4 separate regions of the Homo sapiens genome follow, and regions 1, 2 and 3 are each linked to region 4. Evidence: fine-mapped expression QTL. A gene starts in region 4. Each other region holds a variant in brackets. All regions are shown on one strand. Distances are from middle to middle.

Region 1 (4,164 bases), 180 kb after region 4:
CAGATATGTTTCTTCGAGCCTGATCTGTCTCCAACGCTGCATCACACGTGCCTTGTATGCATTACCACCACCGATACTCTGCACACCCTCACATTCAGCACACCCAAAACTGAACTGGCCTGGCTCTTGCTGTTGAACTTATTTAGTTCTCACAACAATCCTATAAGACATGTATTGGCATTATTCCAGCTTAATGGATGTGGAAGCCAGGCCCAGAGAGGTTAAGTCGTTGACTCAAGACCACAGAGCTACTAAGTGGTGAAATCAGGATTTACTCCCTCATCTGCCATTTCTCCTGTGTTTCTGTCTGTGGAAAGCACTGTTCTACCCAGACAACCAGGCACGTAAGAGGCTCTTGCTCAGATCAAGAGCTGAGTGCCATCGAGTCTAATTTCTTTCTCTCTAGTCCCTGTGCCTCTGTCTCTTGCCACTGAGACTGTCTTTGTTGAGGTGTACTCACCCTCTCTACCCAGAGAGAGCACCAGTTGCCTCCTTCACAGCTCATCTTTACCCCTCCAACCCACCCTCCAAAGTTCTAGAAGTGACCTTTTTGAAAGGTCAATCAGTTCTTTTATAGTTACCTAAACCCCCTACCAACTCCCTCTGGGCATGGATGCCAGCCTCCCTCTCCCGCCTGGGTCTCTCGTCCCCCCCCACCCAGTGCCCTGAACTGCGTCCATCCTTGTTCAGCCTGGCTGCACAGCCTCATCAAACTCCCTGTTGCTCCCTTGGTGCATATGCCATTTGGCCTCTCCTCCTTCTCCCTGCTGTGCCTTCCTGCTATCCTCCCTACTGAGGCCTGACATCTTTCTCAAATCTCTGTTAAAGAAAAACCTTTTAGAAACCATTTCTGACCGTCTGTCATCATCAGAGTAATAGTAGCAGGTATTTACAGAGTGTTGACTGCGTACCAGACAGTGTTCTCTAAGAACTCTTTGCATTTACTTATCTAACACAACCACCTTTTCTAAAGTTTAAACAAGGGGAAACTGAGGCACGAGGAGTTTAAGTAATCTGCACAGCGTCATACAGCTAATAAGTGGGAGAGCCAGGGTTCAAACCCAGAGTCCACACTCCTGGCTGCTATAAATTTGTGGCCTTGAACAGTGCTTTACTGGCCTTCATGCACTCTGAGCTCTGGGCATGTCTGCCTTCCACTACTGAAGAGCAAGTCTCAGCAGGATGGGGAAGAGGTTTTATTGGCCTTTGGTACCTCCAAGGCTTAGCATGCATCTGGCATGTGGAGGCAGCGGTCACGTTCTTGCTGACCACGCCTAGCTGCTGCTTGTCAGCTGTTAATCAGTCTTATAAGCACTTAGTGCATAGCACAGGCCTCCTTCTAAAAATGAAGGCTCATGTTGAACTGTTTAGCTTCAAACCTTAAAAATGAATGATGAAAGATAGATTCAAGGTGGAGGAAGCTAAGGGTCACCAGGAGTGCTTTGGACCCTCCAGTAATGACTGCAGGCCCCCCGCAAGATCTTCTGGATTGGCTGTCATCAAGATGAGGATGAGTCTCCACTGGATGGACTGGTAGGACATCTCTCATCCTATGGGATCAGTGAGTCATTGTGTTACTGACTTAAGGAGTTAAAAAGAAAATCTTAGGAGATTTGTGAAGTTCATTAAAATAACCACTACAGTAATTGAACATGTAAAGCTAGGTATACATACTGTGCTCAGGGCTTTGTACATACGGCATATATGTATCATATCCAGTGATCAGATGAGGAAGATGAGGCTCGGGGAGGATAGGTTACTCCCCCAGTTCTGTTTTTGTGGGATAAATTGCTTCCCTGTGTTATCTTCAAATATTTTTTTGCTTGTTCTGAGAGGAAAGAATCTTGGAGTGATTTGCTTGATTTTGCTTTTAAAAGGCATGTGTCTCAAACTTGTTGTAGGTGGAAAGTGAGACCAACGTCCTGCAGGACGGCTCCCTCATTGACCTGTGTGGGGCCACTCTCCTCTGGAGAACAGCAGATGGGCTTTTTCATACTCCAACTCAGAAGCACATAGAAGCCCTCCGGCAGGAGATTAACGCCGCCCGGCCTCAGTGTCCTGTGGGGCTCAACACCCTGGCCTTCCCCAGCATCAACAGGAAAGAGGTGGTGGAGGAGAAGCAGCCCTGGGCATATCTCAGTTGTGGCCACGTGCACGGGTACCACAACTGGGGCCATCGGAGTGACACGGAGGCCAACGAGAGGGAGTGTCCCATGTGCAGGACTGTGGGCCCCTATGTGCCTCTCTGGCTTGGCTGTGAGGCAGGATTTTATGTAGACGCAGGACCGCCAACTCATGCTTTCACTCCCTGTGGACACGTGTGCTCGGAGAAGTCTGCAAAATACTGGTCTCAGATCCCGTTGCCTCATGGAACTCATGCATTTCACGCTGCTTGCCCTTTCTGTGCTACACAGCTGGTTGGGGAGCAAAACTGCATCAAATTAATTTTCCAAGGTCCAATTGACTGAC[G/A]CCCTTGACAGCCATCTACGACTTTATTAACAGGTTACTGTGAAGATTTTGCCACTAACTCTAGATTTTACCTTTTTGTAATGCTGTTTATCAGAGGAGGGTGACAGGGGCTGGAAATAAAGAGAGGGGACATGGTGATGAAACATGGCAGGAGTGTAACAGATACCAGTGGTGTGTTGCATGCTCAAAACAGCAGCGTCGTCATTGAAGTCTGCTTGATTAAACCATAATATCTTTGTAATAATTGGATTTAAAATGCTATGCTTCTATTTTTAACCTTGGGTTTTTAACCAAGTTTTTTTTTTTTTGTAATCTTGGACAAGACTTTAAATCATATTTTACAGATGTAGAAGAAATTTATTCAAAAGTGTGGGCTCATGAAGTTCACTTCAGTGCAGTGTGGTGTAGGTGTTACGCGAAGGGCGCACAGTGTCTAGAAATACTTGATCGTGGCTCAAACCTGACCAGACAGCAGAGGGGCGGCTCTGTACAGTGTGACTGGTGGACAGATGGCCTTAGGCACAGGTGGTTTTGAAATCTGGGGCTTTTTCTGATTTATTTTTCTGACTTGTTGGGGGAGAGAATATTCATAACTTGTGGGCTTTTTTTTTTTTTAACTTCAGTGGAATTTACTTTAGATATTCATTCATCAAATACATGGGACTTCACAAACAATTTTCCATAACTTTTTAGCCTGTCTTTTGTTATTTCTGCCTAATATGATTTGCCCCGATACTCATCTTGCACGGCCAGAACTGTTTGGTTGATTAAAATACATCAGCTCTTAAAAACTCATTAACTGAGGGTAATTACAGTAGTAGACATGGTCTGGGTACTATACTACCATGTTTATTTGCTGACTGAATTAAGATTTAAGAATGATTAAAAATAAGCTTTTACTTTTTAAAACCACTTGAGGTTTCATAAAGCTTGGGGTTTTTTTTTTTCCTTTGTTAAGAAAGCCAACCAATCACAATGATATAGTCATTGTTGTGCACTCCCTTTTCACCATCTGTCACCTTCCCTTGCAGCTTAAGGAGCCCAGTAAGTTTTGAAAATGTTTGCGAATCAAACTAAATTTAAGTGGGATGATTAGATATACACAACACCAAGTGGTACATCTGCAGAGATAATTCAAAATTCCTGCTTTTGAGAGAGCAAATGAGTGTTGCTGAGGAATAATTAAATGAGAATTTCATAGGAGCTCCACCATTCCTGTTACTTTCATTTCATTTTGATTAATAATTCTTGGATGCTTGGCATCGATCGTATCACTGCTCCTAGAAGGTAAAGATCCTTTAGGACATGAGACTGGTAGAAGCTGGCTGAGATAAAATAAGTATTTATTTAAACTAATGTTCTCTTAATTTGACCATTGCAGATTTGGGTGACTTTTTTTTAACCTTTGTACATATACGTAATTTATATGATTCTAATGTACTATATCCATACTTGAATTGGTTTTTTCGTATTTTGCCTACTGGCAAATATTTTGCCTATTTTCAGTCGTTCTAACCTATTTGAATACGCTTTTCCTTAAAGTGATACGATAATATTACTCTTGATTGCTGCTGCTTAATTTGATGTAATATGTTTAAAGTTCAGCCTCTCAGTTTTAATATAGCTTTATTTTTCAGTGGAGATCATTGTTTAGGATGAGACATTTTTGGTTTTGGTTTTGTTTGGGTAAATTTT
Region 2 (4,164 bases), 210 kb after region 4:
TTTTTTATAAAATGTATTCAGTCTGTGGTCTAATCTATGTCTCAGCAGTTAGCAGAAAGTGTCTCTGATTTGGGCCCTAAGAAAGACACTGGAAAAAATCCCAAACTTCACTCTCCTAGGATCTTGCAACCAAAGCTGACTATTGGTGGCTACACTGTGTACTAATGGGGTTAGTGCTACATGCAAATTATGTGGAAAAATAAAGCAAGATGACTCCACAGATTTTTACCCATAACCACAGCTACATCTGCATGGGACAAGGCAAGCCTGCCATGCCACCCACCCCCATCTCAGGCCTAAGAGTGATGGAGATGTGTTCAGATGAGAGTCTGTGACTCAGCCTGCCATACCTTCCTCTCCAAGTTCTATTCAACATGGAAACCAACTGAGGCCAGGGACTTAGGTGTCAGCTCCCTAGTTCAGTGTCAACTTAGAACCAAGCAGCAAAAAGGGTGGGTAGCTCGACGGAGAGATGGAGTAGCAGATGGAGCTATTTTATTCCTTAATTAACATAACAGCTGTAAGCAATCTCTCCCCACCCCCATAATCTTACCAACAACACTGAGGGGTTCTACCTGTGTTTATTGGCTGTTTGTGCTGTGTGTTTCCAATAATTGACAACATATGTGATTTTGTTATTCTACACTGAGCTTGCTTCGTCTGCATATTCATTAAAAAAGAATTTTTAAAATCTTTGTCAGATGTTCTACATCTGAATCATCTTCTAGTATTAAACCACAGCCAAGAACTTTTATATCTTTTATCACATTAATATAAAGATTCATGGAAATTTGGGGACTTGGTGGTTGAGAATTTTTCTAGTTTCTCCAATTTGTTTACTTTTTAAAGGCAAGCTGTAAATATTGGTGATAACGATGTGCTGAATGGAATTATATTTCTATATCCACTTCAGAAAGATTAGACTAATCCAGGAGCCAGAAATCAGTGCAATTACAAACTATCCAATTCTTGGTTGGAGTTTTGAAGCAAAGTTTTTAAAGAGTAGTTTGTGGTTTAAGTTGCATATTCCCTCTGTAGTTTACTTTGAGCTATTTGAAATGCAGAAGTACATATGTGTAAGATCATCCGTTATATCACACATAATATATAAAATGCAGATAACTGTGTAAGGCAGCTCACCAAATGGTACTTGGCATGCAATAAGCATTAAATGAATATGAATGAATAAACTAAAGAAAACGTGCTGTCCCTAACAGGGTCGTATCTGATTCCTGTGGCCAAGGAAGTGCAAGAGTCTGTGGGAGGTAATACCAAATGTTGCCAAATATGGCCTGGGGAAACAGATCACCAAGATGGACAGTATACTACGATATGTTGAAAATGGTGAAAATATGCTTTATTTACTTGAAAAAAATCTTATAAATCAGCTGAAATCGGCCACAGAAATATTTCTTGTGTGGATTTTAGCTTTTCCTCTACAAACTCTAAGCTGTAGAATCGAGCCACTCCAGTCTCTGTTGGGGATAGTCAGGGAGGCTGACTGGCTGGTGTTGAATTTGGTCCCAAGAGCTTCTTCATCATCCTCCTTCAGCTTGAATATCAGTAAGGCAAAAATAAGCTACATGTAATGTGGGCATCAGGAAGGTGAAAGAGTGGTTTACAATTGCAGACAGCAGTCTCCAGACATTAAAAGATGAGGGAAGGGTGTAGGAATGGTGGACTCCCAAAAAAAAAAAAAAAAAAAAAAAAAAAAAAAAAAAAAATTCTCCCCCTGCAAGGAACCATGTAAGGCAATCAAAAGACATAACAATAACCAACATCCACGCAACTCCTGCCAGGTGCCAAACGCTGGATGACCTCACTATCCTCATGGAAAAGGAGGTGGTAAGTACTGCTCATATCTTCTTCATTTTCCTTTTGAGGGAACCAAGACACAGAACGATAAAGTAACTTGCTTAGGTTACACCATTAGTGAGAGGCACAGCTCGGTTTCAAACCCAAACTGAGCTATTAATATTTCAGTAAAGCACCTTTATATAAATAAGGAGGTAGTTCCTAAGATCTTATCATGGCTGTGCGGCTGCAGATCTCTTCACTACTCCAAGCCCTTTTTTTTTTTTTTTTTTTTTTTTTTTGAGACGGAGTCTCGCTCTGTCGCCCAGGCTGGAGTGCAGTGGCGCGATCTCAGCTCACTGCAAACTCCACCTCCCTGGTTCACGCCATTCTCCTGCCTCAGCCTCCCGAGTAGCTGGGACTAGAGGCGCCCGCCACAATGCCCTGCTAATTTTTTTGTATTTTTAGTAGAGACGGGGTTTCACCGTGTT[A/G]GCCAGGATGATCTCGATCTCCTGACTGCGTGATCAGCCTGCCTCAGCCTCCCAAAATGCTGGGATTACAGGCGTGAGCCAGCGCGCCCGGCCCGCTCCAAGTACTTCTACACATAGCATAGGGTTCCCCTACAACTAACCACGCCGGCGACCTTGAGAAAATCCCAGACCCTTGAAAATCCAGGGCAGCCACTCCATGGTCCCTGCTCTCCCTGCATGAATCATTTGCATCTCCAGACCATGTTCCTTTCTGACCCCTAATGTTTGTCAGCCTCTCACCCCTGCGCACACCAGGGTGCCCCTTCCTTCCTGCACTGCCTTCTTCCTTGTTCTTCAGCTGTCAGATTGACTCCTCCTTTAAGAGCCATAAAGTTTGTCATGGCCAGTCCAATGCCAGGGATTATAATGCTGTACACATTCATCCACTCAGTCAACAAACATTTATCAATGTGCTTTCAGCATCAAGTTACAGAAAATCCATCATAAACTGGATTTAGTAACAATGGAATAGTTGGTTCGCATTCCTGGAAGTCACAGCAGGAGACCAGTGTTTAGGTTGCTTAGACTGGAAGCTTTAGTTCTATTTTTCGGCAAATTCTTTTTTTTTTTTAATTTTTATTTTTCTTTGAGACGGAATCTCACTCTGTTGCCCAGGCTGGAGTGCAGTGGCACCATCTCCGCTCACTGCAAGCTCCGCCTCCCGGGTTCACGCCATTCTCCTGCCTCAGCCTCCCGAGTAGCTGGGACTACAGGCGCCCGCCACCAAGCCCAGCTAATTTTTTGTATTTTTAGTAGAGACGGGGTTTCACCGTGATAGCCAGGATGGTCTCGATCTCCTGACCTTGTGATCCACACGTCTCGGCCTCCCAAAGTGCTGGGATTACAGGCGTGAGCCACTGCACCCAGCCGTGCAAATTCTTTTAAAAAGTTGTTTTTTTTTGTCAATGAATTTGTGACTCTACCCTCCTCTGCATGTTGACTTCATCCTCACTTTGTAGAAAGATGGAATAAAGAGAGTCGGTTCTGGAAGCAGAAGTCAGAACTTTCTCAGGAGTCCCTAGCAGCTTCTCATTGGTCTGATTGAGTGGCATGCCTGTCCTGGACCAATCACCAGCAAGTGGGATGAAATTACCCCTGGTGCTATCATTCCCACACTTGGAGCCAGGGTTGTGGTTGGCATATATAAGGGAACTTAATTCCTATGTGAATCTGTGAAATAAAGTAATTCATAGTTTGTAGCTCATAAATGCACAGTATTTCATTCTTACCAAGCAGGGAAATACTGCACACAACTAATTCAACAATTTTTATTTCATTTCTTGATATGTGCACATTCTGCTAACACTCTCTACATTGCTACTCATTGTGATTAAGGAAGGACCTAAGGAAATAAAAGAACCATGGGTTGCCTTATCTTTCCCTTCCATCATTTTCAGAATAAGTGTTTGACTAACACAAAGGTGTAACATGAGTAAGAAAGGCTGTGAAAAGCTTCCTTGATCATTTGTGTTTCTTAGAATACCACTGCCTTCTTTCTGTGTCCAAGCAAGTTATGACTGGAATGGAAAGTATAGCCACCCGGGGCTGTCAGTACCCCTACCTACTCAATTGCAGACATGTTGATACAGAACATGATCATCGAATTCCAGTGAAGCCACAGTGATGGGAGTCCAGCAAGAGTAAAAGCAAGTAGAAGGTAAGTATGTTACGGAGGTAGCAAATGGGATGGCTAAGATAGCAGATGTGCATATTATGTTTATCTTACCTGCTCACTGTGTGCTGTGTTGTCCCAGCAGACTTTACTTGCAAACCAGAAGTTCTAAGATAAAATTATTAAGCATTTCAAGATGGTAATAGCAGAGCATTTCCCCAAGCACAG
Region 3 (4,164 bases), 34 kb before region 4:
GTCTCAAGCAAAGCACCCAAGAAAAATTTCCTCCTCTTTTTCATCTGTCTGCAGATGGGATCCTTGTTTCTCCGGAGTCATCTGCAAGTGTTACTGATCTCCCCATCTGAAACCCCAGTCAGTGGAAGAGAGTGAGATTTCAGGGGAGTTTATTCATATCCAGTCTATATATTTTTGATTGAAACCTGATATCTTGACTCCAAGTGTCTCGTGATCTGCCGTCACCCAAATGTGTTTTTGAGGCTTCATCCCAGTGGTGTTTTCTTGTGCTGCAAATAGAAAGCTGATGCTTTCTTTCCTGTTGTGGAAAATGTTTGTATGTCAGTTTTCAGAAATAAATATTCTAAAACTGTCCATGGAACATTCTAGGGTGAATCTTAAGAGTGGAGAAGGCCTTGTTTAAGTAGGGTTTGGTTAGCATCTGGCCTGGATTTAAATGATCACATTAGGAGAGCAGCCTGTGAAATTTCAGCTTAATTAACTATAATATTAACTATTAGTGCAAAGAAAAATGGGAGAAAGAGAGGAACACAGTGGGGAAAGGAAAAGGGAGAGGCAGAAGCTGGGAGACTGACTAGATTCGAGGAAGAGAAGAGGAAAAGTTCAATGCAGGTGCTTAGAGAAAACCATCAAAGATTGGAAGAGAACTAAGGGTTCAGTGACAGGGAGGCTAAGGGATGAAAAATTCCCAAAGGAAGGCATCCAAAGTGAGAGATTTCAATAGAATAATTAGGCTAGATTGCCATAAAAAGACATAAAGGTATTGAGTTTTAGCATCTCGTCCAAAAAGTTTGACACAGTGAAACTTAAGAAATGCAGCAGTGGCTTAATGGATAGCAGGCATTTTTTAAAATTTGAGGCATGAGGCTAAATATGAGCTTGAACATGTGAGAAGAGGTTCCCATTAAAGACATGGGAGGAAGTGGCATCGTGGACACACACAGAAAGGTTATCTTGGAAAGATAAGGGACACAGCTTCCTGCCTCTGAGATCAGAGGAAGGAGGGTGGAATAAACATGAAGCAAATCTGATGCAAAGGGTAGAGGAGTTGAGGAAGTTTACCTAGGATGGCCTCCCTCTTCTCACTAAAGATTGCTAATGAAAGGAGCTAGGAGCTCTGAAAGTAGAGGAGTGCCACTTTAGATCATGTACTTGGAAAAGCTGATCTGTAAAAAGTCGTAAATGTCCACTTGGAATGCCTAAGAAGTATATTTGAGACACAGAATGAAGAGCAAGAAAACAATGCTGCTATGGAGGTGGGGGGAAATGGAAGCTTGTTTTGAAAGCAAGCAATCCCAAAGACCAAAAAAAAAAAAAAAAAAAAAAAAAAAAGCAGCTTCACATTCACACTCTAGTTGTGTGCCTAAACTTCCTTCCTTACTGATTTTTGCAATAAAATAGTAGACCAATGGTTTGGACATGTGTATACCAAAGAGAGCTCTGATAAATTAAAAGTCACCTTGGCAGAAAGCAGTGTTCTGGATCTGGAATGCCCATGGTATATCAAAAGGTTCTTTGCAGAACAACCCCACAGATCAAGGGTCTGAGGTAGGAGTTTCTGAGTTATCTAGAGAGCTAGGCTATGGACAGGGCAGGAAATTCCTTCATAAATTACCGACGTAGTATTTGCCTTTCCTAAATGATCATAGAGCAAAGTACAATGAAAATAGCACAGTGCTGGGCTCTGAGAGTCCAGAGTTCAAGTCTGGGACCCCTACTTACTATATGGGCAAGTTACTTAATCTCTCTGAATCTGATCTATAAGATCTAGATAATCATACCTACCTCATAGAACTGTCAGAATTGGATGACATAATAAATTCCCCTTCTTCTTTCCCTACCTGCCTGAACACTTCGAAAATTTCAAATTCTAAATTGTGGAAAAGAGTGTATTTGTTATATCCATCATGATTCTATAAACATCTCTCTTAAAGATTTAAGGATGAGTTTTTTAAAGTCATGAAAGTAGAGAAAGGAATTATCAGGGACAATCTCAATGTAAATCTGGAAAAACCAGTAAGATACAGGACCTCCCTGAAGTTTCCCTGGGGTTTCCTTCGGTCTACTGTTTGCTGCGACTGCTTCCAGAGCATGCTCTCCTGAATGTCTGAAAAGAGATATGACAGGGAGGGGGAACCTTGAGAAAGAGAAAAAAGGCAGGCACTCAACGAAATCAAGATAATGGAAGGTTTATGTCTCTTCCCCTAGGAATGACAGAATTGGGTATGTGAGACTTCCTCAGAACTGTCTAATCTGGGTGTCAGGAATTTGTTTCTAGAAAGACAAGCCCAGTCCTAGGATAGCAGAGCCATCTATTCTGAAAAGTATGATAAGTTAGGCACAAAACTAACAATAGCTGCACAACTCATTAGGTTTCCTAGTCACAAAATTCTCAACATTGACATTCCTTAGCTTTGTAAAAATGTTGAAAGCAACCTCTTT[G/A]CATGAAAAGCACACTACTTCAGCAAGAAAATGGAAGTGATGAGAGAAGAACTGTCATGAGGTTTCTACCTTGCATCTGCCAGCCTACCTGCTGCTGGCCTAGCCTCTACCTTCCCCTATCACTGTGATGACCTAGCCTTGCTCCTGCCCTCAGCCAAAGTCTCCACCTGGGTGCTGGTTCCACTGTCCATTGTACCCAAGGACATTTGCTCCAGCAATTCCCTGCCGCCTCCATCCCCAACCCTGCACCTTCAAGTTCTTCTCTACAGTGGCAGTCCTATCAACTTATAAACATGCTGTTCTTTCCTAAAAATAATTCTCTTCTCTCCCTACTTCCTCTTCCAGTTATATCCCATTTCCTCCTGTCTTTAAGAAGAAAACCCCTTGAAGGAAACATCTGTTCTTGCAACCTCCAGTTGCTTCTCTCTCTTTCTCTCTCTCGTGAACCCAGTTTGGGACCCCCACCTCTCCACTCACACTACTCAAGGTCACCAATGGTCAAGAACACTGCTAACTCTAATGTAACTTCTCAGACCTCCTCTTAATTGACCTATGGGCAGCATTTGGCAAAGTTGGATGCTTTATGCCTTGAAACACTTTTCTCTCTTGCCTCCCAGTTTCTCCCGGTGTTCCCCCAACCTCACTGGCAGTGTCTTCCTCATCCCTCCAAACTCTAAATGTTGGACTTGCCCAGGGCTCATCTCTTGATACTTCGCTTTTGTAATTGCATTTACTGTCTTGGCAAACATTTCCAGTCTTACAACTTTAACACCACCTCTGTGCTGATGACTCCCAAAATTGTATCTTCACTCTGGACCTCTCCATTAAACTCACAACCATCTACCCACTTGACTCTCCAATTGGATATCTAATTGATGTCTCAAACTTAACATGTCTGAAACCGAGATCCTCGCATTCTTCTTGAAACTATCTTTGCCTGCAGTCTCCGGTTGTTGGCTACTCCATTCTTCCAGTTGTTTCAGCCCAAAGATCCTGAGGGCATCCTTGACTCTTTCCTCTCTCACACTCCCTATATATGATCTGTAGGCAAATACTGTTGGATCATATATATATATATATCTATATCTATCTATCTATCTATCTATCTATCTATCTATCTATCTGTCATTCCTAGGGGAAGAGACACCAGGGTCTTTGCACTTGCTGTTCCCTCTGGATTGCTCCTCTGCCAGGTATTCTTATGGCAAGATCCCTCACTTCCTTAGTTACTCCATCTTAGTTACTAGTTTTTTTATATATATAATAAATTATATATATATTTTTAAATTATATATTATATAATATATAAATTATATATATTTATAAATTATAAATAAAGTATATAAAATATATATATATATGTCCTTCACATTCTTCACATCACCCTCTTGCTACCATTCTGTTTCAACTCTTCATCATCTCTCACTGCTGTGGCAGTCTCTAGTCTCTCTGCTTCTATCCTTGCCCTCTGAGGTTTCTTCTCAACCTAGCAGCCAGGGCTATTCTGTTAAAAAACATAAAGTTCAATCATGAGACTCCTCTGCTCAAAACCTTCCAAGGATTCCCATCTCATCCAGAATAAAAGTCAAGTCTACATGATGATGCCCTCTTATCCCTTGACCCCGTTTCCTACTGCTTTCCCCTCAATTATGCCAATGTAACCACACTGGCCTCTTTCCTGTTCTTCAAACAACTGAGGTGTGCTTCTGCCCCAGCGTCTTT
Region 4 (4,164 bases):
CAGACATAGTTTTGATGGGCTCATGCTGTGTTTCAAGAAAATTGAAAGTGTGAATGAGTTGCCAACAGTTAAAAATTGAGAGGTTTGGTGTAATCAGGATTTGAGGCTTTTAGAAAAATTACATCTAGCAAGAGTGAACTGTCATTGTCACATGGCAACAATCAGCTAGAGATGAGTGACAGATAAGCCCTGTAGACGGCACAGACCCTACCAATGTGCCACAGTCCTCACTCAGCCCATTTGCTCATTTGGATTTCCATGCCTGGTCCCTGTATGTATTCTTGACTGTGATCAATAGAATTGCTCTTACCAGTCAGAAGCTTTCAGGGCTCAGAGTGATTCACAGAGCTGATCTAGCCTTGAGCTGCCTAGGATAAAAAGCCTCCATTGACACAAAAACTCATTCACAACAACACTTCCTGTAAGTCAGTCTGATAAAGACAGACCTGATTAAGTACTATAAACATTCTCAAAGACATGTTGGGAGAGTAGAGAGACATGTCCCTCTGGAAGTCAGGGGTGCCACAGGCAGATAGCTAGACGGGGGGGCCTTGGAAGATTGGGATATCCTATGGGAAACTCTCAGCCTAGTGCTGGGAACTTAGTAGGAGGTTAATACATATTTCTTTCTATCTTCCTAAGAGCAGATGCGAAGCACAGCAAGGAGGAAATGCAGCCAGAACAGTATAATGCAATGCAACGCACACAGGCACAGCAGGCCAAGAGAGAAGGAAGGAGGTAATGGTAGCCTAGAGAGCAGAAGCAGCAACAGAGGAGGCCTAGAGAAGCTAGGGTGACAGAGGCAGGCATCATCGTAATCGTGACGGCGCAACTGCAGAATGATTCTGACAGATCTTTGATAGTCATACAATCTATGTGGTAAGTAGATGCACAGAGTACATGAAGACAACATTAATCCAGCAGAAATTTGAAAGAAATTTACATCAACACTGGGGAGGAGACATGATTTATCCCTTTAGTGAAGGAGTGCTGGTTAAAACTGTAACAGATTTTTTATTACATATAAAAAATATAGAGAATACGTAATATATGCAGAATAACTAATATTCATTTGAAATACAGAATTTCTATAGTTAGCTGAAATAAGTTAACTGTTTAATAAAGTTTATTTTTGGCTTACCAGTGGTGTGGCTTTAGTTACTTTGGAATAATTTATTTCTAAAACCTCAATTAAAAAAATCAGTTCCTAACTGAAGTAAAATTATCAGAAACATCATGTCACTACCGTAATAACCTGTCAGAGAATGTTACACAAGGGGTGCAGCACAGCGGAATGGAAGGTTACAGATGCAATTATTATTTTTTCTAGCCCTTTGCTTCGGGTCATAGCCAACCAGTCACTATACACAGGGTAGCTTCTGCAGTATTTATTTCTTTAAATATTTAACAGTGTTGAGAGGCAATGACTCGCAATAATATGTAGAGTTTCTAGCACATTATGAGTGCTTAATAAATGTTAGAACAATAAAATCCTGTATGATGAAAAACAGCAGTCAGTAAAACTATACAGTCTACGATATTTTAAAGCCATAGCAATAACTAGTTTAAAAAGAATAGAAAGCAAACAGTGCATTGATTAAATCACGGTCATAAAGGAACATTTACGTTCACTAAAAAGTCCACCCAGGTAATTTCCCCTTGTATGTATTAGGGGATGGAAAGAAGGCACAGGAAAAGTGGATAAAGTATGGATTAAAAAACAACTCTTCCCCCATCCCCCCGCCACCCCCCAAAAGCCAGGTGGAGCTCTATTGACCACAAGCCGGGGTAGCTACATCCAGTGCAACGGTGGGGTGCTCCAAGCGCCTTCGAAACGTCCTCTACGCCAGCACCAACTGGCAAAACCTTCTAATTTTCTAGACGCCTTTCTGCTTGGTTTTGGAAGGGGAGGCACCCAAGTGGGTGTGTGCGACACCTCTAGTTGTAAGCCGGGACACAGTGACGTCGAGAGAGCGCTATTCTACTCGGAGAGGAAGTTAATCCCATCGAACTCCAGCCAGGAAAACGTGGGCTTGGGAACCGCGGCCGCTCGTTTCCAGGATCTCCCGCGGGCCTTCGCGGCTGAAGAACCAGGCGGCGAGGGCTGAGGACCCCGCGCTCTAAGTTTGGGGAAGGAAGTGAGGAAAAAAAACAGAGCTGCTCCTTTAAGAACTTCCTTTCCCTTTTACTCTATGTTTACATAACACAGGGGCCGAGCCTCCGCCGGGCCGAGGGGGGCGGGGAGTGGGCGCGGACGGCCCCACGCGCCGGGGGAGGGGGCGCCCCGCGGGCCGGGGGCGGGCGCCTGGCTCTGCGTGGGGCGGGGCGGCTCCCACCTGCCCGCGCGCTGGCCCCCGCCTCCCCCGCGCGGCCCCAGCCTCTCGTGCGCCCGCTCCCTCCTCCTTCCCTCCCTCCCGCGGGGCTTCGGCGGCGGCGCTCAGCGCAGGCAGGTCCCCCTGCTGCCGGGTCCCATTTGTTGCCGGCTCTGACTCGGGGCGGCCGCGGCGCGCGGAGCTCCGGGGAGTCAGGCGGAGCAGCCGCGCAGCCACGACGGAGCAGCAGCGGGACTGGCCGCCCCGCGCCCCCTTCGCCGCCGTGCCCTTCCCCGGCGCGCTCACCCCGTTCTCGGGATGGGATTGTAGCGGCGGCGCGGACTCGGCGGGGATCGCGGCGGAGGCGGCGGCGTCGGCGGCGGCGTCGGCGGCCGAGCGGGGCTCCATGTTTTCCCCTGGCCAGGAGGAACACTGCGCCCCCAATAAGGAGCCAGTGAAATACGGGGAGCTGGTGGTGCTCGGGTGAGTCCTGGGGTCCCTGGTCCCGGGCAGCGGCGCGGGCGGGGAGCGCCCGCATCCTGGAGCGGGGCTGGCGGGGTGGCTCGGTGCTCTTTGGGGACCGCCGGGGCGCTCGGGGCGGCAGGAGAGGCTCTCAGGGCCCGGACGGCGGCGCGGGGGCGGGATGCGCCCCATCGGCGCGCGCTCGGGGTGCTGCGGCGGACGCCGGGCTGCGCTGTCCGCGCGGAGGACGCGGCGGAGGAAGTGGCCAGAACTCGGGCGACCCAGCGGGGGCAGCGCCGGGCACCGGGTCCGCGGCCGTATCGTGGGGGCGGGGGCAGGGGCTCCACTTCCCGCGCGCCGCGTCCGGGCCGGGGAGGGCGGGCAGGGACTCCATGTGAGGCGCCGCGGTCGCGGGCGCTTCGCGGGGTCGCTTCCCGAAGCTGAGAGGCCGGCCGGCGCGGAGCCCCGTCTTCCCACCTCCCTCGCGGACCGTGGTACCCGCGCCCCCGAACTCCGAGCGCGGCGCCGTGAGCTTGGGCCGCCGCGGGCTGTGGGATCCCCGGCTGCGCTTTGCAAATTGTTCCGATGACCGCCGCGGGCCGCCGCAGCCCGAGAGCAGTGAACTGTGTGTGACCCGGGCCGGCCGGCCCTCCGCTTCTCCCCGCTTGGAGTGCTCTGGAGGGGAGGGACAGGATGCGGCTGCTCGGGGCCTGGCACCGGGGCGCGGGCCGTATCCCCCCGGTCCCGGCCTCGCTGATGCCCTCCCGGCTGCGGGGAGCTCGCCAGCCTCGCCCGCCTCGGCTCCCTCTCTGCTGGTGAAAGCCGCATCTTGAAGATAGTAATTATGTACAATCGTTAAACGGCAGCAATTAGAGACTTCATCTACTTCCTGAGTTTCCTTGTGACATTTCTATTGTTTACCCTTAATAAGCCAGGAGAGAGGCTTTGCGGGCTTAAAACTGGATATAGTGGGCAGTGAAAGGGGAGGGGGAAGGGGGAAGTGCAGGAAACTGGGGGGAAGGAACAACTTGGGTTTAGTGTTGAAGAAAGGATTATTTTTTCCTTTGGATGTGTCGCTCTGGGAACCCGCGCTTTTGTCCTTCTGCGTTGAAAGACCTGTATTCAGAACATCCTCGGCGCTGATAGGTAGGCTTAGCACACATATGAGGAGTCATGGCTGTGGGAAGACTCAGGGAACTTTGCAAAACGTGTTTTGATAAGTGAGTGCCTTGAAGTAAGTGCTGACTTAAAAATAATTTAAAGAGAGGAGTTTTTGAGGGAAGCTTCCAGACACCGCACAACTCAAAGCTTCCCAGTCTTCCTGACTTTGTTGCTAGTGCATTAAGTGGGGGTGGTATTGGAAATCTCATTACCTATTTTGAAGCTGTTT

What was found. PIP is the estimated chance that this variant, and not a neighbour inherited with it, causes the effect. A credible set is the group of variants that fine-mapping cannot tell apart.
Region 1: its variant is the best candidate, but not a certain one, in a credible set for the expression of PELI2 in whole blood (INTERVAL, PIP 0.51).
Region 2: its variant is the best candidate, but not a certain one, in a credible set for the expression of PELI2 in esophagus muscle (GTEx, PIP 0.62).
Region 3: its variant is the best candidate, but not a certain one, in a credible set for the expression of PELI2 in blood mononuclear cells (TOPMed, PIP 0.51).

What each region holds. Positions count from the first base shown.
Region 1 is chr14:56,294,699-56,298,862 of GRCh38, forward strand. PELI2 (pellino E3 ubiquitin protein ligase family member 2) reads left to right here. Exons shown (of 6, transcript NM_021255.3): 6 at 1,902-4,164. The coding sequence ends at 2,468. Among named protein-coding and RNA genes, the nearest start is that of LINC02284, 14 kb to the right of the region's middle. RefSeq lists an enhancer at 2,151-2,650. The variant G/A (reference allele first, on the strand shown) is at 2,470.
Region 2 is chr14:56,324,381-56,328,544 of GRCh38, forward strand. It overlaps LINC02284 (long intergenic non-protein coding RNA 2284), which reads left to right. Exons shown (of 7, transcript NR_187174.1): 3 at 1,800-1,845; 4 at 3,803-3,981. Among named protein-coding and RNA genes, the nearest start is that of LINC02284, 15 kb to the left of the region's middle. The variant A/G (reference allele first, on the strand shown) is at 2,286.
Region 3 is chr14:56,081,482-56,085,645 of GRCh38, forward strand. No RefSeq gene overlaps it. Among named protein-coding and RNA genes, the nearest start is that of PELI2, 35 kb to the right of the region's middle. The variant G/A (reference allele first, on the strand shown) is at 2,443.
Region 4 is chr14:56,115,943-56,120,106 of GRCh38, forward strand. PELI2 (pellino E3 ubiquitin protein ligase family member 2) reads left to right here and starts at 2,469. Exons shown (of 6, transcript NM_021255.3): 1 at 2,469-2,795. The coding sequence starts at 2,719. RefSeq lists an enhancer at 1,857-2,096 and silencers at 2,227-2,286, 2,327-2,586, 2,877-2,946.